Linked DNA regions of Homo sapiens. The protein of the gene in region 1 purifies or fractionates together with the protein of each later gene. This does not show direct contact. Each region holds a gene or a part of one and is shown in the gene's direction. Other genes may lie near its edges.

What was found.
Region 2: the proteins of GPHN (region 1) and ROCK2 fractionate together in Homo sapiens (co-fractionation; one large-scale study listed by BioGRID). This does not show direct contact.
Region 3: the proteins of GPHN (region 1) and PAAF1 fractionate together in Homo sapiens (co-fractionation; one large-scale study listed by BioGRID). This does not show direct contact.
Region 4: the proteins of GPHN (region 1) and PPP4R1 fractionate together in Homo sapiens (co-fractionation; one large-scale study listed by BioGRID). This does not show direct contact.

Annotation. Positions count from the first base shown.
Region 1 is NC_000014.9:67,106,761-67,114,795, forward strand, and holds part of GPHN (gephyrin), read left to right. Parts: intron 1-1,613; exon of another isoform or gene 1,614-1,702; intron 1,703-3,379; coding exon 3,380-3,499; intron 3,500-5,100; coding exon 5,101-5,159; intron 5,160-6,257; coding exon 6,258-6,411; intron 6,412-8,035. UniProt on the Homo sapiens protein: Microtubule-associated protein involved in membrane protein-cytoskeleton interactions. It is thought to anchor the inhibitory glycine receptor (GLYR) to subsynaptic microtubules.
Region 2 is NC_000002.12:11,191,745-11,199,779, reverse strand, and holds part of ROCK2 (rho-associated protein kinase 2), read left to right. Parts: intron 1-1,005; coding exon 1,006-1,099; intron 1,100-1,194; coding exon 1,195-1,289; intron 1,290-2,074; coding exon 2,075-2,254; intron 2,255-2,431; coding exon 2,432-2,600; intron 2,601-4,754; coding exon 4,755-4,825; intron 4,826-5,435; coding exon 5,436-5,524; intron 5,525-5,922; coding exon 5,923-6,001; intron 6,002-7,067; coding exon 7,068-7,329; intron 7,330-7,418; coding exon 7,419-7,632; intron 7,633-8,035. UniProt on the Homo sapiens protein: Protein kinase which is a key regulator of actin cytoskeleton and cell polarity.
Region 3 is NC_000011.10:73,927,155-73,934,305, forward strand, and holds the end of PAAF1 (proteasomal ATPase-associated factor 1), read left to right. Parts: intron 1-130; coding exon 131-208; 3' UTR 209-3,960; downstream 3,961-7,151. UniProt on the Homo sapiens protein: Inhibits proteasome 26S assembly and proteolytic activity by impairing the association of the 19S regulatory complex with the 20S core.
Region 4 is NC_000018.10:9,580,726-9,588,760, reverse strand, and holds part of PPP4R1 (serine/threonine-protein phosphatase 4 regulatory subunit 1), read left to right. Parts: coding exon 1-50; intron 51-525; coding exon 526-672; intron 673-3,932; coding exon 3,933-4,040; intron 4,041-4,180; coding exon 4,181-4,246; intron 4,247-5,485; coding exon 5,486-5,644; intron 5,645-8,035. UniProt on the Homo sapiens protein: Regulatory subunit of serine/threonine-protein phosphatase 4. May play a role in regulation of cell division in renal glomeruli. The PPP4C-PPP4R1 PP4 complex may play a role in dephosphorylation and regulation of HDAC3.

The DNA of each region.
Region 1 (8,035 bases):
TTTTATCTAATTGAGTTTCCTTAAGATCATTATTTTGCAATTTCTTTTCCAGGAGTTCATTGATTTCCTTTTCATTGGAGTCTGTTACTAGAGATGTATTCCTTTAGTGGTGTCATATTTCCTTGCTTTTTTGTGTTTCTTGTGTCCCCATGTTGATCTGTGTGCCTAGTGGAACTTTTGCTTCTTTCAGACTTTCTGGGTGGTTTTGTAGAGACGCCTGTAGTTGGGCTTTAGTGTGTTGGTTGCAAAGGGTATGGTGACTTTCTGGACAGGTGCAATGGTGTAGTCTCCTTGCAGCTTTTTCAGTTGCATTCAATGTCAGTAATAACTGTGAGTACCTCAGTGGCCTAATCCATAGAAGTTTGTGTCAGTGGTAGTAGTGGCATAGGCTGTTAATATCCTTGGTGTCAAGGGCTTTTAGAGTCCTCCTCTTCTTGTTTTCCACACAATAGGGAGAATCAGCTGAAGGGATCCCTCTTGGTGTTAGGTCTGACATGCCCTCCAAGCAGCTACAGTGGCACTGGGCTCAAAATATGGTGCTTGGAGTGACTGTGGAGCCAGGATCCAAGGCTCAGGGTCTTGTGAATCCATTGTGGCACCTGGTTCTTGGGGTTCAGGTTCACTCTCTGTGGCAGAGTTGGGTGTAGGTTATCCAAAGAACCAAGGTTTATGACTGAGGCACCCCCTAGCAGCTTGGACCCAGGTGCCCTGGTTGTACCTGTGATTTTATACCTCATGGGTAGGGTGTAGTACTGACCAAACTCCAAAGAAAAAGGTTTTGGCCAGGGGAGCAGGGTATGGCCGCAGCTCAGGAACCAGAGCCAGTAGGGCTCAGCAGCAGCTCGGGTCACAGTGGATAAGGTACTGTGTAGTAGTGACCCTAGACCCCTGGATGGTGGGGCTACGCAGGTCCTCACTTCAGACTCTGAGGCCAGGTGCAGAAGCAGCAGATACCTTAGAATGGCAGAGCGCAGCTGTGGTTTGATCCCCGGGGGGGCCAAGGATCAACACAGAAATGACTCAACTCCCCAGAGAGGGGGGTATCTCAGCAGCTCAGACTCTAAGGGGCTATAGTCTAGCTCCAGAGAAGCAGGGTACTAGAGTTATTTGGCCTGTAGGTCAGGATATCTTGGCTCAATCAGCACTCTGTTTCCCTAGGACATGAGTGACTACATCAGCTCAGCCTGGGATGCGTAGGTGCTCAGCTTGGCAAAGTGTGTGCAACATACTTTCTAAGCCTTGCCATAACAGAGCAATATGTCTGGAAAAAGGATGATTAAAGAAGATTAGAAACTATCTCCAATGTCTGGATGGAGTTAAGGGAAACCAATAAAGGAATCTGCAGCACCCAGGAGCTAGCAACAGTGAGATTTCCTTACCACATCTTAGTCTGAAGGAGCAAAGAAAGACAATGGTACCTGAACCTGGGAAGATTCATATCTGTGGGAGAGGACTGCCCAACAGCAGCTCTTGCTCTCAGTAGGAGAGATGCCCTAACCATCACCAAACTGCAGCCCAGGAGGAAAAGAGCAAGGGGAATGAAAACTCTACTTTTCTGTCTCTCTCCTACCCTCTACATCTCTTACTGACCCCTCCCTTTGGCTGAGTCTCACCAGACGCCAAAGTGGTGGGAAACTGGTTAAAATAGTCCATAGAGGTCAGCTTCTGGACCACAGCACAGAGTAGAGAATGATGATGTGATCTGGAGAGGCAAACAGAAAATGAAACAAATCTTTGTCTTTGTAAGGCTTATATTCTGTAATATATAATGCACTTAACATTGTACCTAGCATAGATTGTGGGTTCAATAAATATTAGTTATTGGTAGTATTGCTTACAGTAATAATATTATGGAGAGAAGATTTTTAAGACTTTTGTAATAAATTTCCTGTTTTACTTTGATTGTACTTTCAGTAGTAAGGTATTTTTTTTTCTTAACCATTCCCTAAGGGGTGTGTGTGTGTGTGTGTGTGTGTGTGTGTGTGTGTGTGTGGTTTATTTTACTTTGTCTTATTTTGGTGGTTAAAATAACAACAATGACAAAACATACACACACATAACATTAAATATACCATCTTGACAGTTTTTAAGCTTATAGTTCAGTAGTGGTAAATATATTCACATTGTAGGGACTTAAGATTTTAAATAGAGTCATGAGTTACTTAATGAAGATATATTCTGAGAAATATGTTGTTGGGCAATTTTCTTGTTGTCCGACCATCATAGAGTGTACTTACACAAACCTGCATGAGTAGCCCACTACACACCTAGCCTACATGGTGTGACCTGTAGCTCCGAGGCTACAAACCTGCACAGCATATTACAGTATTACTGAATACGTAAGCAATTATAATGGTATTTGTTTATCAAAACAAAAAGTACAGTAGAAAATATGGTAATCTTATAGGACCACCATCATATATGCAGTCCAACATTGAGCAAACTATCCTTATGCAGCACGTGACTATACTTATGAGGCAGACATCTTTAGAAAGGAATCTTTTGGCAGGGGGGATTAATATTGTCTCAGGATTTTTTCTTAGGGAGAATTTGAAGCATTCATTTTCCAAACTCCAGTCTAAATCATTGCCCCTGACAAGTGACTTTCAGATCACTTCTCTATCAGATCAAATCTATCAGATGAATCTTACAGAAAAATGCTTTTCCTCATGTTGTAAGAAGTTAGCAGGGAAGGTTCTGTCTCTTATACCATCAATATGAGAGCACAAACAATGAAAATCTTGTTTTTCATTTTCAAAAGTAATGTTTAACCTAGGTCATTACAGACACTGGAATCATTTTTAAATGATTTAATTATATTTGCTCAACCTCTATTATTAATTGATAGGTGAGCTAATGTGTTTTAGAATATTTTCAAAGGCAATAATTAAAATATTTCTGGCTTGCCTTTATTTAACCAAAAAGTTTAGTTAATAAAGTACTGCATTTCTCAAACATTAGAACTTCAATAAGTTATGAAGATTTTTTTTTGTAATTGTTATTCACAATGTATGTCCTAGCAATTTTTTTACTTACAGACTCTCAAATCACTTTACATATATTAGGAAAATGTACATTATTTGAGAGGCAAAAGTGGCAAATGTAAATGGCAGTTCTTCAAAAGTAAAGCAGAGCACCAAGACACCGAATAGTCATTACCTTAAAGTACACATAAAATCAGCTTAAATGAACCTAAAGCCCCTTTAGTGTGAGTGCACCTGTTTGTGGATAGCTTTTATTACACTGGCCCAAAATGAATAAGACTGTAAGACTTTCTTTTATGGTTTATTTTTTAATATTAAAAAAATTAACATCCTCTGCAGACTTTTCCTTTGCAGCAGCAAAGTACATCAACTGTCTTTTTCATCTTTATTTCCAGCCAACTCAGACAGTAATGCCAGGACAAGTCATGCGGGTTACAACAGGTGCTCCAATACCCTGCGGTGCTGATGCAGTAGTACAAGTGGAAGATACCGAACTTATCAGGGAATCAGATGATGTACGTCATCACCAAGTCTTACTGTGCTGTTGTTCCTATGGCAGTATTATGTCACAACCATTTTCTGCAGTGTTTGTGAGATTAACCCAGTTTTTTGGGTTGTTTAGTTTTGTTTTGTTTTTGCTTATGGTGGGATCTTATATTGTAGTATATGAGTCTCCAGTAAATAAGAAATTTCCTTAATCTTGAAAATCTGTTGTTACAGGAGGGGTTTCTATGATCATTGCTGTTATAGCAGAATTTGAATCATATTTGACCCAAGCAGTTTCACATGCAAACAACGAAAGAAAGTACCTCAAGAAAGAAATGCAGAGATATTAATGGTTGACATACCTTCCAGAGCAGAGATATTAATGGTTGACATACCTTCCAGCTGAGAAATTTGCCATTGAGACTAGCTTCTGATAAAATGTCAAGGAGTTCATGAAATCAGAATTTACTAGAGAAGAATTTAACAAAGAGCACTTGGGCAAGTTCTTGAATATTACACTAAGCCAAGCATTTGAACCAAATGACCCTTTCACCTCTGGTTTTCTGTAAGTCTGGAAAAAGCTGTGCCACCAAATGACAGCCTGGAAATATTAAGTGTATGTCAGTTCTCCCTCCATTGCCTCAAGTAAAAGATGCTGGAATCTTTTTGGACCTAAGCAAGCCTTTATCTCACTGAAAATAGTGGCAGGTTATTGAAACCAGAGTATAAGCCAGTAATAAAAGTAGAATAGATTCAACTGAGGTTTTAATAATCAGCTCTCTTACTTGTTTTATGAAGAAAGTAAAGATATATTTTAAAGCTGAGGTGAAAAATAAACATATATTCTCCCAAGCCGAGTAGATAGTAAAATTGGCCATGCCAAGAGACAGACACTTTCCCTGATCTGGAGATTTTCTTTTTAATCACCTTTCCATATGTAAGGCTTATAAAATTCAACCCTTGGCAAACAGATCACATTGCCTGCTGTTAAAACTGCCTAAGCAGATTTATTGGCATCAGGGAAGCCAGCAAAGCACTGAATTCCAGAACACATACATCCACAGACTCTGCCAGATGACAAGACACAGTTCCAATGTCACAATATTATTCACAGCCCATAAATGTAAAATTGATTACTGCAATTAATGGACAGAAATCTACTACCAGGCAAACTATAAGTCCTTTACTGAAATTTCTGCAAGTATTTGGTAACCTTGGCATGGTATTGAACCCATGATTCATGGGAAAAGAAGGAAGATATTACCTCCACACACGTTCACTTTATTAGGGTAGCCACCTACATATGTATATAAAAATATATAAACAAATTCTATATAATGTATTAGTTCAAATATTAAATCTTATAAACAAGATTTAATATTTGAATTGGTACATTTTTTAAAAGCATAAAAATTGGAGAAAAAAATTTTTTATTTATTGGCACCAAACCTTCTAATTTTTCAGGAACCTGTGTTAGAAATTCAGTGTTTTCAAAGGGTGTAGCAAATAGTTTTCTTTTTGTCTATATTTGTATATATCCTGGGCCTATCTGATGGTAAAAGTATCGGAGTAACTAAATTCTACTGCTCAGAAATTCTGTTTGAAATTACATGACCGGCTGTTATTATAGGGCACTGAAGAACTTGAAGTGCGAATTCTGGTGCAAGCTCGGCCAGGCCAAGATATCAGGTAACTTCAAAACACATAGAATATATAGCCTACTTTTGTTTCTACATGATCATTTACTCAGGAAACCCTGGCTACTATAAATCTGCAGCCATGTCAGTTAGCCATTAATTTTCAGGGCTTTAACAAAAAGCAAAATGAATGTTATGAATTCTGTATCACATATCTGCCCTGCCTACTTTTTAATGAAGATGGTAAAGGCGAGTTAGTCAAAAGCAAGATGAGAAAGAGGTAAAGTCATGAGCCTACATATTCTACAGTTAATTCTACTTCTAGATAATCCAGAATTACCCAATCCCATCCCTAAATAATCTGGAATTTGGTATCAACTCAGATAATACCAGAATTGGGTATTTACACAATTAACTAATAGCATATGCTCTAGTGACTACCAATAATAATGGAATAATCTGTTCCTTGTTATATACAAAGATGAGGCTATTTGCTATGATAAATAGTGCATATACCTTAAATTATTTTTCTTAAAATGGAATATGTTTACCCTGATTCCATTAATACTAATTTGCTGAACATCCCTTTGTAACGAAGCTACACTTCTCCCATCCCTATGGCAGCACACCAAGGTTAATGTACCTCAGTAGCCACAGATCAGGACCAACCTAAGTGGTCCATATGGAAATTACCTCTATGACTGTAGCCTCATTAGCATTATTCTCCTTGACAAAGCTAGCCAGCTGTGGACCTCTTATCATTAATGCCGCTAGATATTGCCATACAAATTCTTGCCTTATCAAAGAAAGTTTACAATTGGTATTTTTACTATAATGTAACATAAAACAATTTGTAAAGTAATTTTATTCACAGGTACTCATGAAAAAAAATTTCAAATATGAAGTAACATGTTTTTCTTTAGCAGTAATACATTCAAATCCTATTTCTGTTTTCTGTTGTGTGATTTAACTTTTAAAATTAAAAAAGCATAGGATTTTTAGAATCCCTTCAATTCATTGTTTTCCTACTACTTTATTTCTAGACTTTTTTGTCTTCTTGAATGTCCTTTTTTGACACTAAAGTTTCCCTCTGAGTTGAGAAAATGTTGTTCTCTAATCACACTGCTTATGGTTCTGCTTTGACTTTCAGACCCATCGGCCATGACATTAAAAGAGGGGAATGTGTTTTGGCCAAAGGAACCCACATGGGCCCCTCAGAGATTGGTCTTCTGGCAACTGTAGGTGTCACAGAGGTTGAAGTTAATAAGTTTCCAGTGGTTGCAGTCATGTCAACAGGGAATGAGGTATTAAAAATAAAAATGGAGGGAGTGGGGAGAGGGCCCATAAGATAAAGGTATTTCTGACATATGTTCTGTGTTGTAAATAGAATGTTGTAGATTATAGATCATACCAGTGGATCCACATTCTTATAACAGGGAAACAATAAATTGGCTTTAGGATAGTTTCAAGTTCAGAATATGAGAACAAAGAAGAACTAGTAAAAATTATGTATTATGAAATGTTCTCTTCTATTAGAATGAAATATTATAACCAATGGCCTTTCCACAAAGTCAGTACACATAAGCAAAAAACTTTAGCTGCTAGCTATAGATATTAAACTATACAAACTCAGTACTGTTTCTGTTTAGACAATGAATTGTGCCCATCCTGCTGCTGAAATGATGAGCTACTTCTGTGTGGGAAGTATCAATGAATCAGGACATCATGGCTAGCACTTCTTGTGAAAAGTTCCATTTGATCTTTAATCACTAAGAGGGATTTGATAATCAGGTTTTTTTTTTCCTCTCTCTCTCCCTAAAGATAGCATCTCTAGTGGCATGATATTTAGAATGGGTCAAAATGTCTTTTCATTCCTGATTTAGAAAAGAGAATTTAGTCCATCTCTTTCTGAGAACTCTTGAAAAACTTCCTATTGCTTGTTTTGCTTAGGTTGTGCAAAACTTCAGTCAGAAGCTCCAAGGTCAAATGGAGAATACTAAAAAGTGAATCTGCTGGAAACTCAAAACCTTATAAAAGAATCAGAAACTATTGAGATTTTTAAAAGTATTAATAATTCCTTTGACCTTACTATTAAAGAAAAGATTAGCGGGATTTTTTAAAAATCTCTTTGTTCTGAAAATAAACCCATCATTATTTTTAATTTCTTGAAGTCTTGGAAATGAAAATTTTCAGAGGTCTTTTTATGACATTATAGTCCTTTTGGTTAAAGCAAAAGAATAGACTGTTTTATTTTGCAAATAGATAGCTAAATCAACATTCCAGATGTGCTTACTTCCCAGTATATATGCACTAGTCATTTCCAAAAACTATTGATTGACAAAAAACATTCTTTTCAATTTGATCTACATAGTAATGATTTTAATATCCTTAGAACCAAATAACACTATATATAGCATCAGAAATAAATTTTTGTTAAACTGGTTGACTCAGTGAACTATTCTTTTTTATGATATACTTACATGCTTTGTGCAACAAGTAAGTTCATGGAGTTTGAGAAAGCTAAACAGTAGCACACTCATGGACCAGGCATGGTGGCTTATTCCTGTAATCCCAGCATTTAGGGAGGCTGAAGCAGGGGGATCAATTGAGGCTAGGAGTTCAAAACCAGCCTGGGCAACATAGCGGGACCCTGCCTCTACTAAAAAATTAAAAATAGCTATGCATGGTAGCACATGCCTATAGTCCTAGCTACTGAGGAGGCTGAGGTGGGAGGATCACTTGAGCTCAAGAATTCAAGGCTGCAGTGAGCTATGATGGCACTACTGCACTTTAGCCTGGGTGACAGAGTGAGACCCTATCTCACAATAAAGTAAAATAAGAATTAACACACTCATAATAACTATTTAGTTAATAGGAAACTCTGTTTAAGCGATATTGCTTATATTTCTCTCTCATGCTTTTGTAGGT
Region 2 (8,035 bases), on another chromosome or scaffold:
GTCCATGAATGAATGAATGCATGCATTAAATGTAATAGAAGATGGAACTATTACATCAGATCTTCATTTGTATCAGCAATTTAATGCCTTAATATGCTATTGAGTGAAAACAATTACAGAAAGATAAATTCAGTAAGATAGAAAATCGCAGCCTGGCATGGTGGCTCATGCCTGTAATTGCAGCACTTTTGGAGTTGAAGGTGGGAGTATTGCTTGAGCTCCAGGAGTTTGAGACCAGCCTAGGCAACATAGTGAGACCCTGTTTCTACCAAAAAAAAAAAAAAATTTTTTTTATCCAGGTGTGGTGGTTCATGCCTATAGTCCCAGCTAGCTACTCATGGGGGCTGAGGTGGGAGGATCCTTAGAGCCTTGGAGGCTGAGGCTACAGTGAGTGGTGATCGCACGCCATTGCACTCCAGCCTGGGCAACAGAGCTTGAGACCTTGTCTCCAAAAAGAGAGAAAAAAAAAAAAGAAAATCACATAAAGCCACACTGTGTATTGTTTCATGTGTATATAATGAAATACAGTCATGGGTGGAAAGGCAAAACACGTAATTTACAGTAAAACTTCCTTCAGGCCAGGTGTGTTGGCTTATGCCTGTAAGTAATCCCAGCACTTTGAGAGGCCTAGGCGGGCGATCACTCGAGGCCAGGAGTTTGAGACCAGCCTGACCAACATAGTGAAACCCCATCTCTACTAAAACTATAAAAATTAGCCAGGTGTGGTGGCGCATGCCTGTAATCCCAGCTACTAAGGAGGCTGAGGCAGGAGAATCACTTGAACCCAGGAGGCGGAGGTTGCAGTGAGCTGAGATTGCGCCACTGCACTCCTGGTTGACAGAGCAAGACTCACCTGGGTGACAGAGCAAGACTCTGTCTCAAAAAAAAAAAAAAAAGAAAAATAAGAGGTTTAACAATATTCTAGGATGTTTCTCATTTGAATCATTTTATAACATAAATTGTGTAAATTGGGATGTGATTATTTTTTCCTCTTTCATTTCTTAGCTTGAGGAAACTAATAGGACACTAACTAGTGATGTTGCCAATCTTGCAAATGAGAAAGAAGAATTAAATAACAAATTGAAAGATGTTCAAGAGCGTATGTATTAACAAAAAATGTTTATTTTTAATATACCTAATGTTTATCAGCTGCTGTAATTACCAATGTAATTTTAACTTTTTTCCATGTTTCAGAACTGTCAAGATTGAAAGATGAAGAAATAAGCGCAGCAGCTATTAAAGCACAGTTTGAGAAGCAGCTATTAACAGAAAGAACACTCAAAACTCAAGTATGTATAATAGAATCTAAATATGATTTTGAATTTTGTCTCAGTTTATCTCTTTTACATTTTACTTCTAGCATTACAAATTGGTAGCAGTAGTCATCGAATGTACCAATATTTGTGAAGTCACAATTACCTGATTTTTGCCAGGTTGAGAGAAGTTAGATTTGATTAATATTGTTAAATTCTATAGCAACTAAAATTTTTCTTAATATTTCCTTTTGGAATCACATTCTCTTTCAATTTATTGTTGTAATTTAATGTGTTTTTCTACTTTTAAGAACTGTTGGGATTGACCATTTGCTGACAACCTGAAAAGTGTCAGTTAGTTCACTCTCTGCCAACTCCTACAGTTGCATATGTACTGCATGAACAGGTGGGGTACTAGATACTCTTCACTGTTGTTGCACATAGAATATTTTATTAATTTGATGTCACTGCAAAATGTTCTTCCTCCAGAATAAAAGAAGAAAGGTCTGCCTATTAAAGTCTCTCTAGAACTAAAAAGTCAAAATGGTAGAAAGCAACATCAGATCAATTCTATAAATATTTAAATTATAATTCTCAGAAAACACGAGTAAAAATCTAATGGCTCATTGGATGGAGAAGGATGATGAGTAGTAAAGGAGGTGTATTATTTAAATATTATAGAAAGTGTTTCTTTGTAGCCCTGTATGTAGGGAAGGAGAGTATTTGTGATTGTATAACTTGTTGCTCTTGATGAGATACTGAGAAACCATAAACGTAATTTATTTTATTTATGTATTATATTTATTTTTACATTTTTTAAGGCTGTGAATAAGTTGGCTGAGATCATGAATCGAAAAGAACCTGTCAAGCGTGGTAATGACACAGATGTGCGGAGAAAAGAGAAGGAGAATAGAAAGCTACATATGGAGCTTAAATCTGAACGTGAGAAATTGACCCAGCAGATGATCAAGTATCAGAAAGAACTGAATGAAATGCAGGCAGTAAGAATACTTTTTGGACTCTAGACTGAAGACTTCTTTTTAAGAAGTAGAATTATTTTCATGTCTGTGTTTTACTGGTTATAGACCATTTCTATTTAATAATTATTATTGAACCAAGAAGCAAAATGTTGAGTTATGTTGCATCCAATTAACTTATTGTAATTAAATTTCTTATAGCAAATAGCTGAAGAGAGCCAGATTCGAATTGAACTGCAGATGACATTGGACAGTAAAGACAGTGACATTGAGCAGCTGCGGTCACAACTCCAAGCCTTGCATATTGGTCTGGATAGTTCCAGTATAGGCAGTGGACCAGGGGATGCTGAGGCAGATGATGGGTTTCCAGGTATGGATTTGTTTTCAGCACTAATATTTATCTTAAATATAAATCAGTTGATTGTTTTAAGTCTTGCGACTGACTGCTCTGAAGGAAAAATGTTTGTAATTTCTTTAAGGGAAAACCTACTCCTTGGAGTAAGGATTCAAGTAACATTTCAAACTTATTTTATTTATTGATTTTTTTTACAAAGTTTTTCATAAACATACAAAAGAAAAACTCCACATGTCTAGTTTTTAAATTATTATATTAGCTCTATTTTTAAGCTTTCGTTTCATTTTCTCTTCTTTCTGCATTCTTACTTCCTTTTATGTTGGGTGTTTAGTTCATATCACTCAGTCACACACTATGGAATCCATGTCATTCACCTACCAGCGTTCCTCTACTTCTCTCAATATTGCCACTAAGCCTTCCAGTTCTCACACGCTCCTTGACTCTGATTCTGACTCAGAAGAAGAATCTTTGCCTTACTTACCCATTTCATCGGAACCTAATGGTACAGGTGATATCCTGAAAATCTTCTCATCTTTGGAGTTTTTCCCACTACCCTTAATTTTAGTCCTTTTGAAGATTTTTTATGTAACATTAACTAATAACCACTAACTCTAATATGTTGTTGTAGACTCAGTTAAAAATAAACTGCTGCATGAATAAAGAATTTGTTTTTAAGGTATTTTCTCATGGCATTGCTGTTATAATTGATAGATGCCAACTTGCGAGAAATGGAGTAATACATTATATTGCTTAAGAGCGCATGGTTTCACTGCTTGTTTTAGCCATTTTCAACCAAGAAGAAATTCTTCCTGAAGTTTCATAACAAGAGTGGTGGTACAGAAAAAGTACTTCGACTGATTCAAAGGATATGCTTAAGGTTTTTACTGAGTACTTACTGACATTATCCTAGGCATATGTCCTTCATAAGAAACATGAAAGAATTTGGCCCGATCGTTACCCTGAAAGAGATTACAGTTTAAATGAAAACAGCAGAGAGTTCCGTCATTCAGAGTCAGAGGCAGCCCTGTGTGATCTTTCAAGACTGCAGTTTCCTCATCTAAATTAGGAAAATAATTCCTGTTCTGTGCGGTTTTTTTAGGATTAAAGAGAATTTGTGTAAAGCATCCAGCACGATTGATACATAATAGAAGTTAAATAAGTGATAGCTACTTTTACTATTAGAATAACTTCCCCAAATGCTATTTCACATATTTATTTCATTAAAAGACATTGATCAAATGTCATTAAAACAAATTCCGAGGATTCATACACATTCCTTAGTTGAATTACAATGTTACTGATTTTGATATTTTGGAATTTAGAAATCTTTTGATTATTTTGCTGCTTATTAACCAAATTTTATCTAAAATGTACGTAATTGGTCAGGTGTGGTGGCTCATGCCTATAATCCTAGCACTTTGAGAGGCTGAGGCAGACAGATCACCTGAGGTCAGGAGTTCGAGACTAGCCTGGCCAACATGGTGAAACCCCATCGCTACTAAAAATACAAGAAATAGCTGGGCGTGCTGGCGCGTGCCTGTAATCCCAGCTACCTGGGAAGCCAAGTTAGGAGAATCACTGGAACCCAGGATGCACAGCCTGCAGTGAGCCAAGATTACGCCACTACATTCCAGCCTGGGCGACAGAGCAAGACTCCATCTCAAAAAAAAGAAATAAAATAAAACAAAATTTACATTATTTTATTTTATTATAGTTATTCTAAAAGTCCATTTTCTCTGAACACGTAATTATTTAAAATATTTACTCCTTGAAAATGTGCACAATGTGGCCCTCTTCCAAAGGAAAAATAAAGGAGTCTAAGGCAGGTGTACCAGTGAGAATAGAGAGTTGCTGCTGCTGCCTTTTTTTTTTTTTTGGCAACTTTTCTCCTGAATTTTATAAATGCATGAATTTAATCAATGGAACATTTGACTTTATAAAAGTATAGACTATCTGTTTCCAATATGATATAACCTGGATTTTGTTTTGCATTGCATAACTTTTTACTACTGATCCTGTACTATTACTGTATCCTAGATGATGTATAGTGATAAATTCTAAAGGATATATTTTATTTGTTTTATAAATTTCATATTAAAATTTTATTAAGTTCTTTGTTATCTAAGGAGAATTGTTATCTTTAGCCTCACATGTTGTGCTTATTTGTAGAATCAAGATTAGAAGGATGGCTTTCATTGCCTGTACGAAACAACACTAAGAAATTTGGATGGGTTAAAAAGGTAATTGATACTTTGGAATATGAGCCTTTTGTTTTTGTTTTTGTTTTAACTCTAGTCATTTGGCTTTTGTAGTTGTAGGATATACATGACTGGTACCTTTAGACACATAGAACTTGTTTATACTTCAGGATTTGAAATGATATGATTTTATTTATCTTTGTAAAAAATTTTTGTCCTCATACCTTGTTAATAATAAGACAGATTTTATTGTTAGGAAATTGTTGATTTTGATACTTTTGCTGTTTTGTTGGGAAAAGAACTGTGAATATAGTAAAAAAGACCCACTTATTTATTTTCCTCTGTTACTATGATTATTGATGTTATTATGTTTATTTTTGAGAAGGTTACTAATGATGTTGGATCCCAAAGCTAAGTCCAAAAAAATTTGACTTTACTTCTCCCCACAGTTTGCTTATTTAAAATATCTATTAATATAAACAAAATTTATTGTTATTTTAAGGAAGACTGTCCTAAAGATATATTAAATACTTTTTAGTTACTTAGTATTTTATGATTTTTATTGCTAATATAGAATTTATTTTCAAAAAAATCAATAAATAAGGTATATAAAAACTTGAATTACTGATTTCTTTTCTCCCTGTTTTAACAGTATGTGATTGTAAGCAGTAAGAAGATTCTTTTCTATGACAGTGAACAAGATAAAGAACAATCCAATCCTTACATGGTTTTAGATATAGAGTAAGTGTTTTTGTTAGAATATTTAGAAACTATATCTTTTAAAGTATAAGAGACTAACAATGCAATTTATTAGTCTCATAGTATAGCTCCTACTGTAATATTGTTACATTTTCCTGTGATTTGCTTCATACAGATGAAAGTCTGGGATACAGGGTTAGTTAAAACATCTTTATTTCATGGGCCTTTGATACATTATTTTTTGAAACTAATTAGAAAATTTCTGACATAGAGGTTTCTAAAAATCTTAATTAATTATAGAATTAATAGAACAAAATATTCTGAGTTCCTAACATGGGTCAAAGTAGTCAGTGTTTAACGTCTGATGTAAGTATAGAATAATTAATATATAATTTGATCCTTGGGTGATATTTTATTCCTTTATTCAAAATTTTTTATAGCAAGTTATTTCATGTCCGACCAGTTACACAGACAGATGTGTATAGAGCAGATGCTAAAGAAATTCCAAGGATATTCCAGGTAAACATAGTTTTGTTTATATTTGGTTGGTTGGCTTTGTTTTGTTTTTTTCACATTTAGAAGTTCTCAAGTGACATGACATGTTAAATCTCTTCATTCTTTGACCCTCTTCAGGTTACCTTTATGTTTCAGTCCTATTTAAAGATGGTTTGTTGCTTTGTGACTTTTGTGCTTAATTCTGTTTGGGAACGTTTTCATTCCTTTCTCCATTTTATTTGTTAAAGCTTGCGGTGTGTTTGTATCATGTTTCTGGTCTTTGCTATATTTTTGTTTAAGGTTGGTTATGACTTTTTTTTAAACATGAATTTTTCCCTTTCTGTTTTTGTTTAATCTCAGCTCTCTAGAAAGTTAGAAAAGTCAGTTATGGAGGTAAATTTTGTACCTTGTAGCCCTTTTACCTCCGATTTAAAGTGAAGCCACATTCTTCCCTTTACTACTTCCATTTTAAAATTAGTCAAACCAACAATGACTTACTGATTTCCTTCTATGTAAGAGTCGTTGTGCTTGGTGTACTGTGTGGAAGTTGGCTCCTTGTTTTCTGGATGCTTGTCATGTTTATTTGGAGTTTAATACACATCCTTTCCTCTTTCTTTTCTCTCTCAACTCTCAAAATATAGGACTTTTAAAATGAAGCTGTGCTCATAGCTGTTACCCAGTTTTCTGTTAAGTATTACAAAACACCAATTAGTGTGATTGCCACATTTCTTCAAGTGATTATTTTGAACAGTCTCTCCCAGAAAAACTTCCTAACACCTATGAAGTTACCTTTTGCTGACCTATTCTGATAGTGCTGCTAAAGCATGGGTGTTATAAAGAAAATAAGGAGGCAGCATTTGAACAGGATCAGTTCTTTTGAAATGCAAACCAAAGTGACTGTCTGATGACTTTTCTTATATAAGCTCTTGATTAAGTTTGCGTAATCAAGAGCTTAAGTTTGTACTTCAGATACATTTTCTTCTCTTTGAATAATTTAGGCTAATTTTATTTTACTTACACTATCAGAATTGTTCCTACATAAAAAAATAGCATGTTTGGAAATCACTTATTGTTCTTTTGGCATTCATAGATTCTGTATGCCAATGAAGGAGAAAGTAAGAAGGAACAAGAATTTCCAGTGGAGCCAGTTGGAGAAAAATCTAATTATATTTGCCACAAGGGACATGAGTTTATTCCTACTCTTTATCATTTCCCAACCAACTGTGAGGCTTGTATGAAGCCCCTGTGGCACATGTTTAAGCCTCCTCCTGCTTTGGAGTGCCGCCGTTGCCATATTAAGTGTCATAAAGATCATATGGACAAAAAGGAGGAGATTATAGCACCTTGCAAAGGTAAATGATAAATTACTTGCTCCATCGATATTGGTTATGTTCAGATCATTTTAAGCACATTAATTTTTTTTTCTAATTTTTCTTTATAGTATATTATGATATTTCAACGGCAAAGAATCTGTTATTACTAGCAAATTCTACAGAAGAGCAGCAGAAGTGGGTTAGTCGGTTGGTGAAAAAGATACCTAAAAAGCCCCCAGCTCCAGACCCTTTTGCCCGATCATCTCCTAGAACTTCAATGAAGATACAGCAAAACCAGTCTATTAGACGGCCAAGTCGACAGCTTGCCCCAAACAAACCTAGGTAATAAACTAAAATGTGGTAAGGAAAAAAAAAAAGTCTATTAAAATATTTTGCTATTTATGTTCAAACTACAAATTTTCCTAATTAGTTTTCCTTTGCTTTGTATTTTAGTTAACTATGGAATACCAAATGTTGGAACTGTCTTAATGTGCATGTCATGTTCATCGATTCAGATGAAAGTAATATAAACTTACTTACTAAATCACACACATACAGTAAATTCAACCAAAAATCTTTAAAGATTTTTGTTATGTTTATTTGTACAATAAATCCTCACTTAACATTGTCCATAGGTTCTTAGAACTTACAACTTTAAGCAAAATAATGGCTGGTCCTGGAATTAAGTTGTTTCCTTCAAAATTGTTCTGTTATAACCTTGATGAGAAGAAAATGGTTTTGTTAT
Region 3 (7,151 bases), on another chromosome or scaffold:
ATGTAATTCTGTTGCCTTCATAAAGCCTTCTCAGACTCCATGGGACTAGTGTGTGTCAATCATAAGCCTCCATCTTTTTGAAATGGAAGAATCCCAGGCTTCCTTTGAACTGTGAATTCTTGTGTTTTAGGTAGCCACATGGGAGAAGCAGATCTACACATGCTGTCGAGACGGTCTTGTACGACGCTACCAGCTTTCTGACCTCTGACTTCTTGGAAAGAGCAGTCCCGGTTAGTGAAAAGGTTTGACCCTGATCAACAATGAGCAGAAACATCATCAGTCCTTCCCAAGGACCATGGCGTTTAATGTCTTGGGCACCCCTTGGAAATCACAGAAAGTCAGCTGTACTGGCCGTGTGGAACTCTCATCCCAAGACCTACTTTGAACTGAGTAAGAAGGTCATTGTGCCCACTGCATTTGTTCCAACTTCTCCTTGTATAAACTCACCCCAGCAACACAGGGCAAGGATATAGATGCTTTTAGTTTGTTCTTAAACCAGTTTTGTTAAATGTTTACAAGGACCTCAGTACTAAAGCCTGTTCTCTGGAGGAAATAAAGAAAATATGTTTGGAGGTGCCTGAATATGAAGAACTTTGTTAAATACTCTTACTCCAGCAAAAAGTTGGTCAGGACGATGGAATTCCTTCCTCAGCACTCCCTGTTGCCTGGCCATAGAGAAGGCCTGCTTGGCAGTAGCAATAAATGTCCTGTAAGCTGCCACCTGGGAGAGATTCTTATGCAGGTGGTAACCAACTGTCCCAGTTTGCTTGGAACTAAGGGGTTTTCTGTGACTTGAAACTTTCAATGCCAAAACTGGGGCAGTCTCAAACCAACATGATTGGTCAGCCTATATGTAGGTGAGGAAACTGAATCATAAGCATTGTAAAGGCATTGGCTGTCAAAGTGTGGTTCTTAGAACAGCAGCATCAGTATCACCTGGGAACTTGACAGGAAATAGAAATTGTTAGGCCCAATCCTAGACCTAAATCAGAAATTCTACGGGTGCAGCCAGCAGTCTGTATTTTAACAAGCATTCCAGGTGATTCTGATGTATGCTAAAGCTTGAGAGCCACTGATCTAGAGGAAGAGATGGTGGAGGGCACTTTAGTCACAGCTGGAACCCAGGGCTCAAAATGACAAGATCGGTCTGTAGGAGATGAGGCCACAGAGGTTGGCAGAGCCCAAATAGTGAAGGAGCACGAATGTTAGCTAAGGAGCTCAGACTTTACGTGGTTGGCAGTGGGGAACCACTGAAGGGTTTTAAGCAAGAGAATGGCATGGTCACCTCCTTTTTTCTCTAAACATAAAAATGGAATCATAATGTATGTATTCCATGGCTTATTTTCACTTAATGTCTCTGAGATTTTCCATCTCAGTACATGTAGACGTTCCTCATTCTTTTTTAACAATGTCCAGAATATGGATACCATATTATTTATATTTTTGAGATTATTAGAGAAAAGTTTCTTGAAAGATGTAACACTTGAGCTGGGACATGCAGATTAAGATTTTTATTTATTTAACGGAGGAAGGTCATTTCTGGCTGGGGTAATAATGTTGTTGACAGAGTTCTTTTTTTTGTTTTTTTTGAGACGGAGTCTCGCTCTGTCACCCAGACTGGTGCGATCTTGGCTCACTGCAACCTCCACCTCTCAGGTTCAAACGATTCTCCTGCCTCAGCCTCCCTAGTAGCTGGGACTGCAGGCATGCACCACCATGCCCGGCTAATATTTTTTTTGTATTTTTATTAGAGATGGGGTTTCACCATGTTGGCCAGGCTGGTCTCGAACTCCTGACCTTGTGATCCACCTGCCTTGGCCTCCCAAAGTGCTGGGATTACAGGTGTGAGCCACCGTACCCGGCCGGCCACCAGAGTTTTTAAAGGCGTATTCTCATGTAAATTTTTTTTTTTTAAAGACAGGGTCTTGCTCTGTTGCCCAGGCTGGAATGCGTTGGCATGATTACAGCTTCTGCCTTAACCTCCTGGGCTCAAGCAATCCTCCCACTTCAGCCTCCCAAGTAGCTGAAACCATGGGTGCACACCACCACACTCGGCTAATTTTTTAAATTTTTTGTAGAGACAGAGTCTCACCATGTTGCCCAGGCTGGTCTCAAACTCCTGAACTCAAGTATTCCTCCCACCTTGGCCTCTCATAGTGCTGGCATTACAGGCATGAGCCACGGCACTCAACCAGGAACTTTGTCTTAACTTTAAATCCCATTTTTTTCTACAACACCCTGTTACTTAAACCAAAGTGTAAAAAGAAAATACTGCAATTCATTTAATATCTACTCTGTTCTAGATACTATATTTATATATCTAATTCTTACAAGACTCAAAAAGCGAATGTTATTATTTGTTTTATTCCGATAAGGAAACTGAGACTCAATACATTAAATACCAGAGGCTTCATTTGGACCTTGGACAGCACCTTCTGCTGCACTGTGTAATCACAGGCAGGTAGCAAGAGACTTTTGTGACTAGAGCAATTTCATTTCAAGGTGCAGTTTGTGACAGGGTCAGGTAGACCAGAATGGACATATTCCAGAACTTAGAAACATTAAATCCTAGGAGCTCCAGGTGGAACATCTAAGAAGTCAGATTAAGAAAACAGGATGAGGCTGGGCATGGTGGCTCACGCCTATAATCCCAGCACTTTGGGAGGCCAAGACGGGTGGATCACCTGAGGTCAGGAGTTCGAGACCAGCCTGACCAACATGGAGAAACCCCGTCTCTACTAAAAATACAGAATTAGCCGGGCATGATGGCGCATGTCTGTAATCCCAGCTACTTGGGAGGCTGAGGCAGGAGAATCACTTGATCCCGGGAGGCAGAGGTTGTGGTGGGCTGAGATTGCGCCATTGCGCTCCAGCCTGGGCAACAAGAGTGAAACTCCGTCTCAAAAAAAAAAAAAAAGAAAACAGGATGAAATGGGCCGGGCGCAGTGGCTCACGCCTGTAATCCCAGCACTTTGGGAGGCCGAGGCGGGCGGATCACAAGGTAAGGAGATTGAGACCATCCTGGCTAACACAGTGAAACCCTGTCTACAAAAAATACAAAAAAATTTAGCCAGGCATGGTGGCAGGCACCTATAGTCCCAGCTACTTGGGAGGCTGAGGCAGGAGAATGGTGTGAACCTGGCAGGCAGAGCTTGCAGTAAGCTGAGATCGGGCCACAGCACTCCAGCCTGGGCGACAGAGCGAGGCTCTATCTCAAGAAAAAAAAAAAGAAAAAAAGAAAACAGGAAGAAATGTTGTCATTTATTTGTAGAATCTGAAACATTTGAACTCATAGAAGCAGTGAGTGGAAGAACCAGCGTGGTGGCTCACGCCTGTAATCCCAGCACTTTGGGAGGCTGGGGTGGGTGGATCGCTGGAGCCCAGGAATTGGAGACCAGCCTGCACAACATGAGGAAACTCTGTCTCTACTAAAAATACAAAACTTAGCCAGGTGTGGTGGTGGGCACCTGTAATACCAGCTACTAAGGAGACTGAGGCAGGAGAATTGCTTGAACCCAGGAGGTGGAGGGTGTAGTGAGCTGAGATTGCACCACTGCACTCCAGCTTGGGCAACAGAGCGAGACTCTCTCTCAAAAAAGAAAAAAAAAATATGTATATATATATGTATATATATATATTTATATATGTAGAAGCAGTGAGTAGAATGGTGGTTACAGAGACTCGGGGAGGAGGAATGGGGAAATGATGGTCATAGGGTGCAAAGTCTCAGGAGGAATATATTGTGTTTTGAGATCTATTGCATAGCATGGTAGATTGCTAAGAGTAAATTTCAAATGTTCTCAACCCAAAAAATGTTAAGCATTTGAGGTGATGGATATGTTAACTGGCTTCATTTAATTATTCCATATTGTATTTATAAGTCACAATAGGACTTTGTGGCCCATAATTATAAACAAGTATAAATTGTCCATTTACAATTAAAAATCAATTAAAAGAAAAGAGGATAAGGAGGGATATGGCTGAGTACACACAACACGTGAATGTCTGTGAGTTCTCATTCCAGGGCTCACTCTTCTACATTGCCACCACATTCGTCCGCTCCTTTTCATACGTCTCCAGAGTCGATGTCCTGGTTGTGATATATGCAGTGACCCTTGACAGCTGCTCTGAAATCCAGACCCAAACAGAAGGAAAGGAGACCAGCTCTCAGGTGCTCCATAGCCTTGTCCACTGTGAAAGGAAGGAGCCCCTGCTTTTAGCAGACAAAGCTTTTTCTTTTTTTTCTTTAGGATTAAGGAGTGCATTCTGGGTAAGGAACGGTAGGACACCGACAGCTCTACAGACTCAGTGAACTTCTGTGCTAGATGGTGTTTCTTGGCTTTGGGATGCCCCCTTGTGACTTCTTATGAGAAATAACCTTTCTCTCCAGACCTGAAAAGCTGGCAGCAGCAGCAGCAGCTATTCAGCATGTACTTGGTACCAGGCACAGGCCTCACAATAGGTAGATTTCTTTTCTAAACAATACTCTTTGTGCATATACTTTATGTTCTTTTTCTATTTTAACTTTTATTTTGCCAATAACCTTAAACTTGCAGAAAAATTGCAAAAATAGTACAAAGGATAGGAAACAAACATGAGAAATATTTAAAAATAATAAAAAGAATAAAAAAGAATAGCATCAAGGATTTCAGTACACCCTCACCCGAATCTCCCAGTTGTTGAATTTTTTTTTTTTTTGAGACAGAGTCTCACTCTGTCGCCCAGGCTGGAGTGAAGTGGTGCGATCTTGGCTCACTGCAACCTCTGCCTCCCGGGTTCAAGCAATTCTCCTGCCCAGTCTCCTGAGTAGCTGGGATTACAAGGGTGCACCACCACACCTGGCTGATTTTTGTATTTTTAATAGAGACAGGGTTTCACCGTGTTGGCCAGGTTGGTCTCAAACTCCTGACGTCAAATGATCCGCCCGCCTCAGACTCCCAAAGTGCTGGGATGACAGGCGTGAGCCACCGTGCCCAGCCCAGTTGTCAACTTTTTATTATGTTTGCTTTATCACTCTCTTTCTGTATATATGTACACAGGTTATATATGCTATATTTTTTCTGACTCATTTGAGAGTAATATGTAAATGTTACATTCTATTACTTTATTACCATTTGTGATGGTAAATTTTATGTGTCAGCTTGACTGGCCATGGTGCCCAGATGGTTGGTCAATTTTCTGGATGTTTCTTTCAAGGTATTTTTTTTTTTATGAGATGAACATTTAAAATCAGTGAATTTTGGGGCCAGGCAAGCTACTCAAGTCCAGCTACTCAAGAGGCTGAAGTAGGAGGATCGATTGGGCCCAGAAGGTTGAGGCTTCAGTGAGCCATGATCATACCACTGAGCTCCAGCCTAGGCAACAGAGCAATACCATGTCTCAAAAAATAAATGAATAAACTAAAATCAGGGGATTTTGAGTAAAGCAGATTACCCTCCATAGTGTGATAGTGTGAGTCGGCCACATCCAATCAGTTGAAGACCTTAATAGAACAAAGACTGTTGTCCCCCAAGCAAGAAGTTCTGTCAACAGACTGCCTTTGGACTCAGACTGCAGTTCTTCCCTGAGTCTCCAGACCATCAGCCTACTCTATCAGTTTCTGGATTTGCCAAGCTTCCTGTGAGCCAATTCCTTAAATGTCTCTCTCTCTTTCTATGTATATATACACATACACACACGTATCTATATGAAAACAGAACGTACACATCTTATTTGTCCGCCTTCTCTGGAGAGACCTGACATATGTCATTGTATGGATATACCGCATTTTGTTTATCCATTCGTCAGTTGATGAATGGGCTGACATTTGGGCTGTTTCCACTTTTTAGCTACTATGAAATACACTGCTAGCAGCATTCATGTGCAAGTTCTTGCGTTAACATATGCCTTCAGTTCTATTTGGTATATACCTAACAGTGGAATTGCTGGGTCATATGGTACCTATATTTAACTTTTTGAGGGGCTGCCAACTGTTTTCTAAAGTGGCTGTAACCATTTTACATCCTCTCTAGCAGTGTACGAGGGTTCTCATTTTTCCATGTCCTTGTTTTTTATTTATTTTATTTTTTTCTGAGACGGAGTTTCGCTCTTGTTGCCCAGGCTGGAGTGCAATGGCGTGATCTTGGCTCACTGCAATCTCCACCTCCTGGGTTCAGGCGATTCTCCTGCCTCAGCCTCCTGAGTAGCTGGGATTACAGGCATGTGCCACGACGCCTGGCTAATTTTTGCATTTTTAGTAGAGACAGGGTTTCACCATGTTAGTGAAGTGAACTCCTGACCTCAGGTGATCCACCTGCCCCAGCCTCCCAAAGTGCTGGAATTACAGGCGTGAGCCACCGCGCCCAGCCATGTCCTTGTTTTTTTCCATTTTTAAAGTTATAGTCTGTTGATGTTAAGGTGGTTAAAATGGTGTCTTCCAAGTTTCTCCACAGAAAATTAATAAGCATTTTGTGGGGAGCTACTTTGAAACTATATAAATATCCTGTTCCCATGAAACTTGCGTCAACTAGTTTTAGCATTCTTAGATGATTCTTGTCTGAATGAGTTATTCCCATGCTATTAATAATTGCCAAAGGGTGACTTTCTTATTCCATCATTCTTTCTATATTTATAATTAGCATTCTACCATAAGTTAGAACTTTCCCTTCTACCCCATTTATTTATTTAGTCATTTGCTTGTTTGTTCATTCGTAGATATATCAGTGTGGACTACTCATGGATTCATATTCTATGATTACAACTCATTCTTACTTTTATTTACTTTGATGTTAAAATTGTTCCAGTTTGGCCAGTGGACACTCCTTCAAGCTGGATCCTGTGTCCTTTTGACACGTTCCCATCATTCTCTGAGCACTTCCATATTTTCTGGTACCACAAGATGTTCCAGCCTCACCTTGTATTTTTCCAGCCCCATCCCTAGAACCAGTCACTTGTGTATGCGGCCTTGGTTCCATTTAGTAGATAATGGTATTCAGAAACCAAGATCCGGGCGCTAGTATACTTTGTTACTGGAGTGTTCCTGCTTCGGGGCCCTATCGGGGACAGTACATGAATGGCCCTTTCCACATCCATCGTTCTATAGTAAAAAGCATGAGTTCACACTGATGTCTCCAATTCCAGCCCACCTCCACAGGTTTTATTTTAGCCTTCCA
Region 4 (8,035 bases), on another chromosome or scaffold:
AATTCTTACTACCTATTGTGGTTAGATACCTTGCAGATCAGAATAATCAGGTAAGAGTACCATTTATATGTTCTTAAAAGAAATTTACGTAGTGTAATATATGGAGAATAGCCGAGCCTAAGTGTTCTCTTTGGAATGTTTTACTGTTTTTCAAAAATGAATATTTATCTTAGACAAGATGTGTTTAGAGTCTGACAAATCTAGTAGATCCCTTTAATGCCATTATGGACAATGCCTAGTAACTGCACTCTCACTTGGTAACCTCCTAGCGGTCCCTTAAAAGGTTTGTTACTTTGTGAGGCATCTTTTACCAGGATGGCTCTGTCCACTTCCTCTGTTACAGCACAATCTACGAAGTTCTGTAGTCTTTGTAATAGTTGAAGAAAATAAACACAAATATTTATTTGCGGAGTTTTGCCAGTTATGGGTCCCTTTGAGATGAGAAATCTTTGTTTATAAAAATCAAGTGATAGAATTTTGTCATGTTGCATATGTACTTTCTTTGTGTTGTTATTTTTCTCCTAGGTGAGGAAAACAAGTCAGGCAGCTTTGCTGGCTCTGTTGGAGCAGGAGCTCATTGAACGATTTGATGTGGAGACCAAAGTGTGCCCTGTCCTCATAGAGCTGACAGCCCCAGATAGCAATGATGATGTGAAAACAGAAGCTGTGGCTGTAAGTCAAATGCCATTTTTCCACTTATGCAAAATGTGGCTGATAAGAGGTGCTTATTAAAAGTCAGGCCGGGGTTAGGCACGGTGGCTCATGCCTGTAATTCCAGCACTTTGGGAGGCCGAGGTGGGTGGATCACTTGAGGTCAGGAGTTGGAGACCAGCCTGGGCAATATGGTGACACCTGGCTCTGCCAAAAAAATACAAAAATTAGCCAGGCATGGTGGTGTGCGCCTGTAGTCCCTGTTACTTGGGAGGCTGAGGCAGGAGAATCACTTGAACCTGGGAGGAGGTGGAGGTTGTAGTGAGCCAAGATCAGGCCACTGCACTTCAGCCTGGGCGACAGAGCAAGACTCCGCCTCAAGGAAAAAAAAAAAAATTAGGCTGGGCTGGGTGCAGTGGCTCATGCCTGTAATCCCAGCACTTTGGGAGGCCAAGGTGGGAGGATCACTTGAGACCAGGGGTTTGAGATCAGCCTGGCCAACATGGCAAAACCCCATCTCTACTAAAAATACAAAAAAAATTAGCCAGGTGTGGTGGCACATGCTTGTAATCCCAGCTACTCTGGAGGCTGAGGCACGAGAATCATTTGAACCTGGGAGACAGAGGTTACAGTGAGCCGAGGTCATTCCACTGCATTCCAGCCAGGTTGACAGAACAAGACTCTGTCTTAAAAAAACAAAACAAAAAAAAAAAAAGAAAGAAAGAAAGAAAGAAAAGGCTGCTTTCTGTTAAAGTTGCCACAAATCATTAAATTTGAAATACAATCAGGGCTAGAAAGGGACATAAAGGCTTACAAAGGAAAGTGTACCTTCTGCACACAATACGAAAAAATACATAATTGTAAATTATTATGTCAAAGTGGAAAACTGAAATGGTTATTTTATCAGTGCAGTTAAAATTTTAAAAACCCTGGACTGAACGAAGAAACACTTGAACCCCTTCAGTAGGTATTGAACACTTTTCTAGGCACTGTGTAAGCACAGTGGAAATAAAATAATACTTTGCTCCTGCTCTGACAGGTATGGTCTTTGTGGGAAGGATGGTCAGGCAAGTACATTTCCCAGGATATATGACATCAGTGATGGTTATCAGAAGAATATACAGATTGTTAAGTCATTACGCACATCATAAAGTCAAATGTAATAGGAAGTTTCTGGGTTTTTTTTTGACATGGTTTGCAAATATTCTGATTACTTGAAGGCCATGATAGGGCATGAATTAGTATAGAGTAGTATCTGTTGTGATTCACATCTGGTTCCTGAGTTCGGATAGTAGTAATTCTCATGGTAAATTAGAAAAGTGATAAATTCGTCTGGAAATTTATTCATATCTATTTGGATAGTAAGAGTTCACTCCTTAAGCCTAAAATAATATGGTTGCGTCTTTGTTGATATTTTTTAATAATCACACTATATTTAGTGCTTCTGGATCATCAGTAATGGGATGAATTAGATGATCTCTCTAGTCTCTTTCCCTTGAAGAATTTCTTGAATCTATTATTTTTAGATACTCAGTTACCAGTTAATAATAAATTTACTTTTTCAGTAATGTTTTTACTGAAGTGAACCTTACATGACATAAAATCATTTTAGTGTTAGTGGCATTTAATATGTTCACAAAGTTGTATAACCACCACTTCTTCCTAGTTCCAAAACATCATTATTTCTTTTTTCACTTTAGGATTTTTGCAATGAAGGAAATCAGTTTTGGGCTTGGCCTAATTTTTGGTTTATATTGAGCCGTTTAACTTGCTGTATTATAATTCTCGATGCAATGTAAAATTAGTAAAACATTACAATAAAAAATTTAAAAACTATATCCAGTGCTAGTAGGAGTCTTATGATTCTCTTACAGTTGTGTTTGTTTTTTGGTCATGTTTTATATTCCATGGCTCCCATATTTTCTCTATCTTAATAGATAGAGAAATAATAATTATTTCTTAATAAAAATTAATTTCTTAATAAAAATAATTCATTTTTAAATAAATTTAGTTATGCTACATCAGTGATATACAGCATAACTTTGGATTGTTAACTAGAGCATGGAGATGCTTATTCAAAAAACAAAACTGGTTTTGGGATTTAGGAGATGTAGGCGTTATCTCTAGTTCTGATGATGGTGGGATTTTCATGGGGATAGTGTTGAATCTGTAGATCAATTTGGAGACAATTGCCAGTTTCACAGTCTATGAACATGGTAGATCTATTTATTTAGGTCTTTGATTTATATCTTTAATCTTTTGTAGTTTTCAGCAGAAAGTTCTTGTGTGTATTTTGTTCGATTTCATATTTTTTAAAAGTACTTCTGTGAGTGATACTGTTCTTAAATGTTTCCAGTTCATTGTTCATTGCTAATTTGTAGAAATACAATAGATTTTTATATTCTAATTTATAGCCTACAACCTTCCTAAACATACTTATTCTGGTGGCTTCTTTGTAGATTCCTTCTGATTTTCTGTGTAGACAACCATGTCGTATTTGAATAGAGAGAATTTTCTTTCTTTGCAATCTGTATCTCTTTTACTTCTTTATTTTGTCCTGTTTGTACAGTCTAGCAATTGATACAATTGATAAATGACAACAGGCTATCCCATTTCTTTCTGTATTAACTGTGGGAACAATGTATCTAAATAGAGGGCCAGTTTTCAAATAAAGTTAATCCTCACTTTGCCTCCTATTGTGTTAACTGAAACATGCCTATATCAGAACTGTGTTCATGCTTTCCCTGGAACTGAAGCTTTGCAAAACCAGGACATGGTTCTGATATGTATGAGCTTTAGTTCACAGGGTGCTTTGCAAGGCGAGGACTGAATTTTTTCTTAGCAATACAGATATGCTAAATCTAGATCTTTCCTGGGGATAGTTTTCCCTTTGAACAGTCACCAATTTTTTAAATTGGGAAAATGTAGGTTTTTGTTTGTTTGTTTGTTTTGCTTTTAAAATTACCAGGCAAAATGATGAAGTAGTAGTAAGATGGAAACTGTGGACAAAAATGAAATTGTTAGGATTTTCTGTGGGTTTACTGGGCATGCAGTATTTATTGGTTGTTTTTATTGATTGTGGTTAATATCTGTCTTTGTTTCCTACTTAGATAAATAAGATGAAATTAATAATTGGCTATGAATGTTTTCTGTCATGTATATAGTATAATGATGCCATATCATATTTTATGTTTCCTCAAATTATATACTTTTATTATTTAATTTAACTGAAAGAGGCTTACTTGATATTTTCAGTGTGTGTTTGTTCTTACTTATTTTAGATAATGTGCAAAATGGCTCCCATGGTTGGGAAGGATATTACAGAGCGTCTTATCCTCCCTAGGTTTTGTGAGATGTGCTGCGATTGCAGAATGTTTCACGTTCGAAAGGTATTTTTTTGTCGTTTTTTTTCTGCTGTTTAAGAACATAGTTCTAGTGGTTAATGTACTGATACATGATATTTAAAAGATTATCTTAGAAGAACCTTATGTGTAATATTTTGAAATGTCAATGATGCTTTTGTTGTCAGGTCTGTGCTGCCAATTTTGGAGATATTTGCAGTGTAGTTGGCCAGCAAGCTACTGAAGAAATGTTGGTAAGTATTGCAGATATAAAGGAGTAAACAGTGTGTGTTACAAAGTAGTACATAAAGTTTGAAATGCACACATTTACTCCAAAGTTTTATTAACACAATTCCATGAATATAAACCAGAAAGATAATTTTGAATTTAGGAGTTTAAATATCTGTAATCTGGGCATTTGAATTATCTTTTTGATATTTATTAAAAATATGGATATGTTTCAGAACCATTGATCTGTTTTCACCTCTTCCATTTCTGTTAAGCAAATCAATTCTTACTTATTCAATTGAACCTTTAATTTTATTGCAACCCTCAAGAATGTTGATGACATATTAAATCTATAGCAAGTTAGTTTTAAATAGTACACAAGATGCCTATACTTGATGTATAAGTCACCATATCTAAAGAGTTTCTGAAGCCATCTCTTATGCAAAATAATTAAGTTCAGGGGCAAGCTCTTGTAAAACATTTAAGCTATGATTGTTGGGAGTGCTTTTGCATAGCCAGAAATATTGCATAAGACAATCCAGTATGCTTTTGCATAGCCAGAAATCCGACGGACCAAATTATCAGCACTTTTTATTAATTTATCAGTGATCTTTCATGTTGGGTAGGGTTTTGATTATCACTTTTGTGAAATAATACATTTCTGTCCGTTTTAAAGCAAACATAATTTTGACTCATAAGAAATAACTTAAAATTTAAGATATATTATTATATGTTATATATTTATAATTTAAGATACATTATTTTTTATACTTTTAGGAATAGACAGTAAATTAGATGTGATTTATTGAAAATTGTTGAGTATAAATACTAATAGATCCTACTTTTTAAGACAATCCAACATTTAAAACACTGAGGCTGGGCGTGGTGGCTCACACCTGTAATCCTAGCACTTTGGGAGGCCAAGGCAGGTGGATCACCTGAGGTCAGGAGTTCGAGACCAGCCTGGCCAACATGGTGAACCCTCATTTCTACTAAAAATACAAAAATTAGCTGGGCGTGGTGGCACACGTCTGTAATCCCAGCTACTTGGGAGGCTGAGGCAGGAGAATTGCTGGAACCCAGGAGGTGGAGTTTGCAGTGAGCCAAGATCGCACCACCTCACTCCAGCCTGGGCAAAAGAGTGAGACTCTGTCTCAAAACAAACAAACAAACAAAAGAAGCGTGAAAGCAGAAAATGAAAGCGAAGTAACTGATGAAATCTGCTATCTTTATCCAACTAACAAGACTCTTTCCTTTTCACATAGCTGCCCAGATTTTTCCAGCTTTGTTCTGATAATGTATGGGGAGTCCGAAAGGCTTGTGCTGAATGCTTCATGGCGGTTTCATGTGCAACATGTCAAGAAATCCGACGGACCAAATTATCAGCACTTTTTATTAATTTGATCAGTGATCCTTCACGTTGGGTAGGGTTTTGATTATCACTTTTGTAAAATAATACATTTGTGTCCGTTTTAAAGCAAACATAATTTTGACCTCATAAGAAATAACTTATAATTTAAGATATATTATTTTTTATACTTTTAGGAATAGACAGTAGAAAGACTACTATATTAACAGTTTGTGTGTTTTTTTGTAACAGGACAAAAATTTCTTTACACATTTAAGTCCTGTTGATTTTTATTTAATTGGCATGATGTATTATGTTAATTTTTAGATGTTAAACCACTTGCATCTTTGGAATAAGTCCCACTTGGTCATAGTTGTATAATTCTTTTTATATGTCGCTGGATTCAGTTTGTCAGTATTTTGTTGAGGGTTTTTGTGTCCATATCATGAGAGATAATAGTCTGTAGTTTTCTTATGGTGCCTTTGTCTGGTTTGTTGTCAGAGTAATAATGGCCTCATAAAATGAGTTAGGAAATGTTCCCTCCTCTACTGTTTTTGGGGAGAGTTTTTGAAGAATTGTTATTGATTATCTCTTAAATGTTTGGTTGAGTTCAGTGGTGAAGCCGTCTGGGCCTGGGCTTTTCTTTGTAGATAGTTGTAAAATTCCTAATTCTGTCTCTTCACTTGTTATAGGTCTGTTGTGTGTTTTTTTCTTGAGTCAGTTTTCATAGTTTGTATCTTTCTAGGAATTTGTACATTTCATCTAAGTTACTTAATTTGTTGGTATATGATTATACATAGGATTCCTTTATAATCTTTTAATTTCTGTAATGTCAGTAGTAATGCCTCTTCTTTCATTTCCTATTTGAGTAATTTGAGTCTTGTCTCTGTTTCTTGGCCAGTCTGCTAAAGGTTTGTCAGCTTCGTTGATCTTTTTACAGAACCAACTTTTGGTTTCATTGGTTTTCTCTATTTTTCTATTATTCATTAATTTCCATTTTAATCTTTATTCTCCCTTCTGCTTGCTTTTAGTTTATTTTGCTTCTTTTTCCAGTGTCTTTAGGCAGAAGGTTAGGTTGTGGATTAGAGGTCTTCCTTCCTTCTTTGAATTATCATCTGGGGTAAATGGCTTTCAACCCGAAAAACTTTATTTAGTATTTCTTGTTAATGTGGTTCTGCGAACAACAAATTCTGTTTTCATTTATCTGTGAATGTCCTTATTTCACCTTCAATTTTGAAAGACAGCTTTACTTAATGTGAGATTGAGTGTGTTATGCCACTGCCTCAGACCTCTTCTGTTTCTACTGTGAAGTCAGCGGTTAATCATATTGGGGTTCCCTTGTAAGTGATGTGTCATTTTTCGCTTGTTGCTTTCTAGATTTTTCTCCTTGCCTTTGACTTTCAGAATTTTTACTGTGATGTGTCCGTATGTGCACCTCTTTTAGTTTATACTACTTGGAGTTGAGTTGATTGAACTTCCTAGTTATGTAAGTTACGTTTTTCAATACGTTTGAAAAGTTTTGAGCCAATGTTTCTTCAAATATTTTTCCTTCTCTCTTCTCTCCCTCTAATATTCCCATTATGTATATGTTAAATGTGCTTAATGATGGCCCACATTTCTTTGAGGCCCTTTTCATTTTTCCTCAATTTTTTCCCCCTCTCTATTCTTTGGCTTGCATAATCTCTATTGATCTATCTTCAATAGAACAATTATTTGTTCTGCCAGTTCAGATCTACTGTTGAGCTCATGTACTGACTTTATTTTAGTCATTGCACTTTTCAGCTGTAGAATTCCATCTGGTTCTTTTTTGTAATTTCTCTTTATTGATGTTATACTCTAGTTGATGCAGCACCGTCCCCATAACTCCCATTACTTCTGTAATCATCATTTCCTTTGGTTCTGTGAACATGTTTATAATAGCTACTTTGAAGTCTTTTTTTAAGTCTGAAATCTGATTGCTCTCACAATCAGTTTCTGTTGCCTGTCTCTTTTATCCCCCTAATGTATGGATTTTTTTTTTTTTTGCCTGCCTTGTAATGTTTTGTTGAGAGTTGAACATTTTAGATAATATGTGTAGTTTGATACTGGTTGTCCTCGCTCCCCCATGGGGGCTTGTTACTGTTATTTGCTTGTTTAGTGACTGGCTGGAATGCTTGAGTGAAGACTATTTCCCCACTCCAGGAGGTACAGCTTTGGGTCTGCCCACAGCCACCCTGGTATGACAGGGGCTTAGTGGGTATGGAAGGGCAGCAGCCTGAGGTTCCCTTGGCTTCTTTCTCCTGGTGAGGAATCACCACCCTGTGAGGTAGACCAGTGCCTTTTGGGGCCCCAGCCTTTTCAGTGTGCCACACCCAAAGGAGGGTGGAAGAAAGGAGCCTCACCCCTCAGCTGCTCTCACTCAGGACTGGACCTCAGCATCAGGTAGCTGGAGCGATGCAGCCTGTGCCCGGGAGCTGCGGGAGAGCAG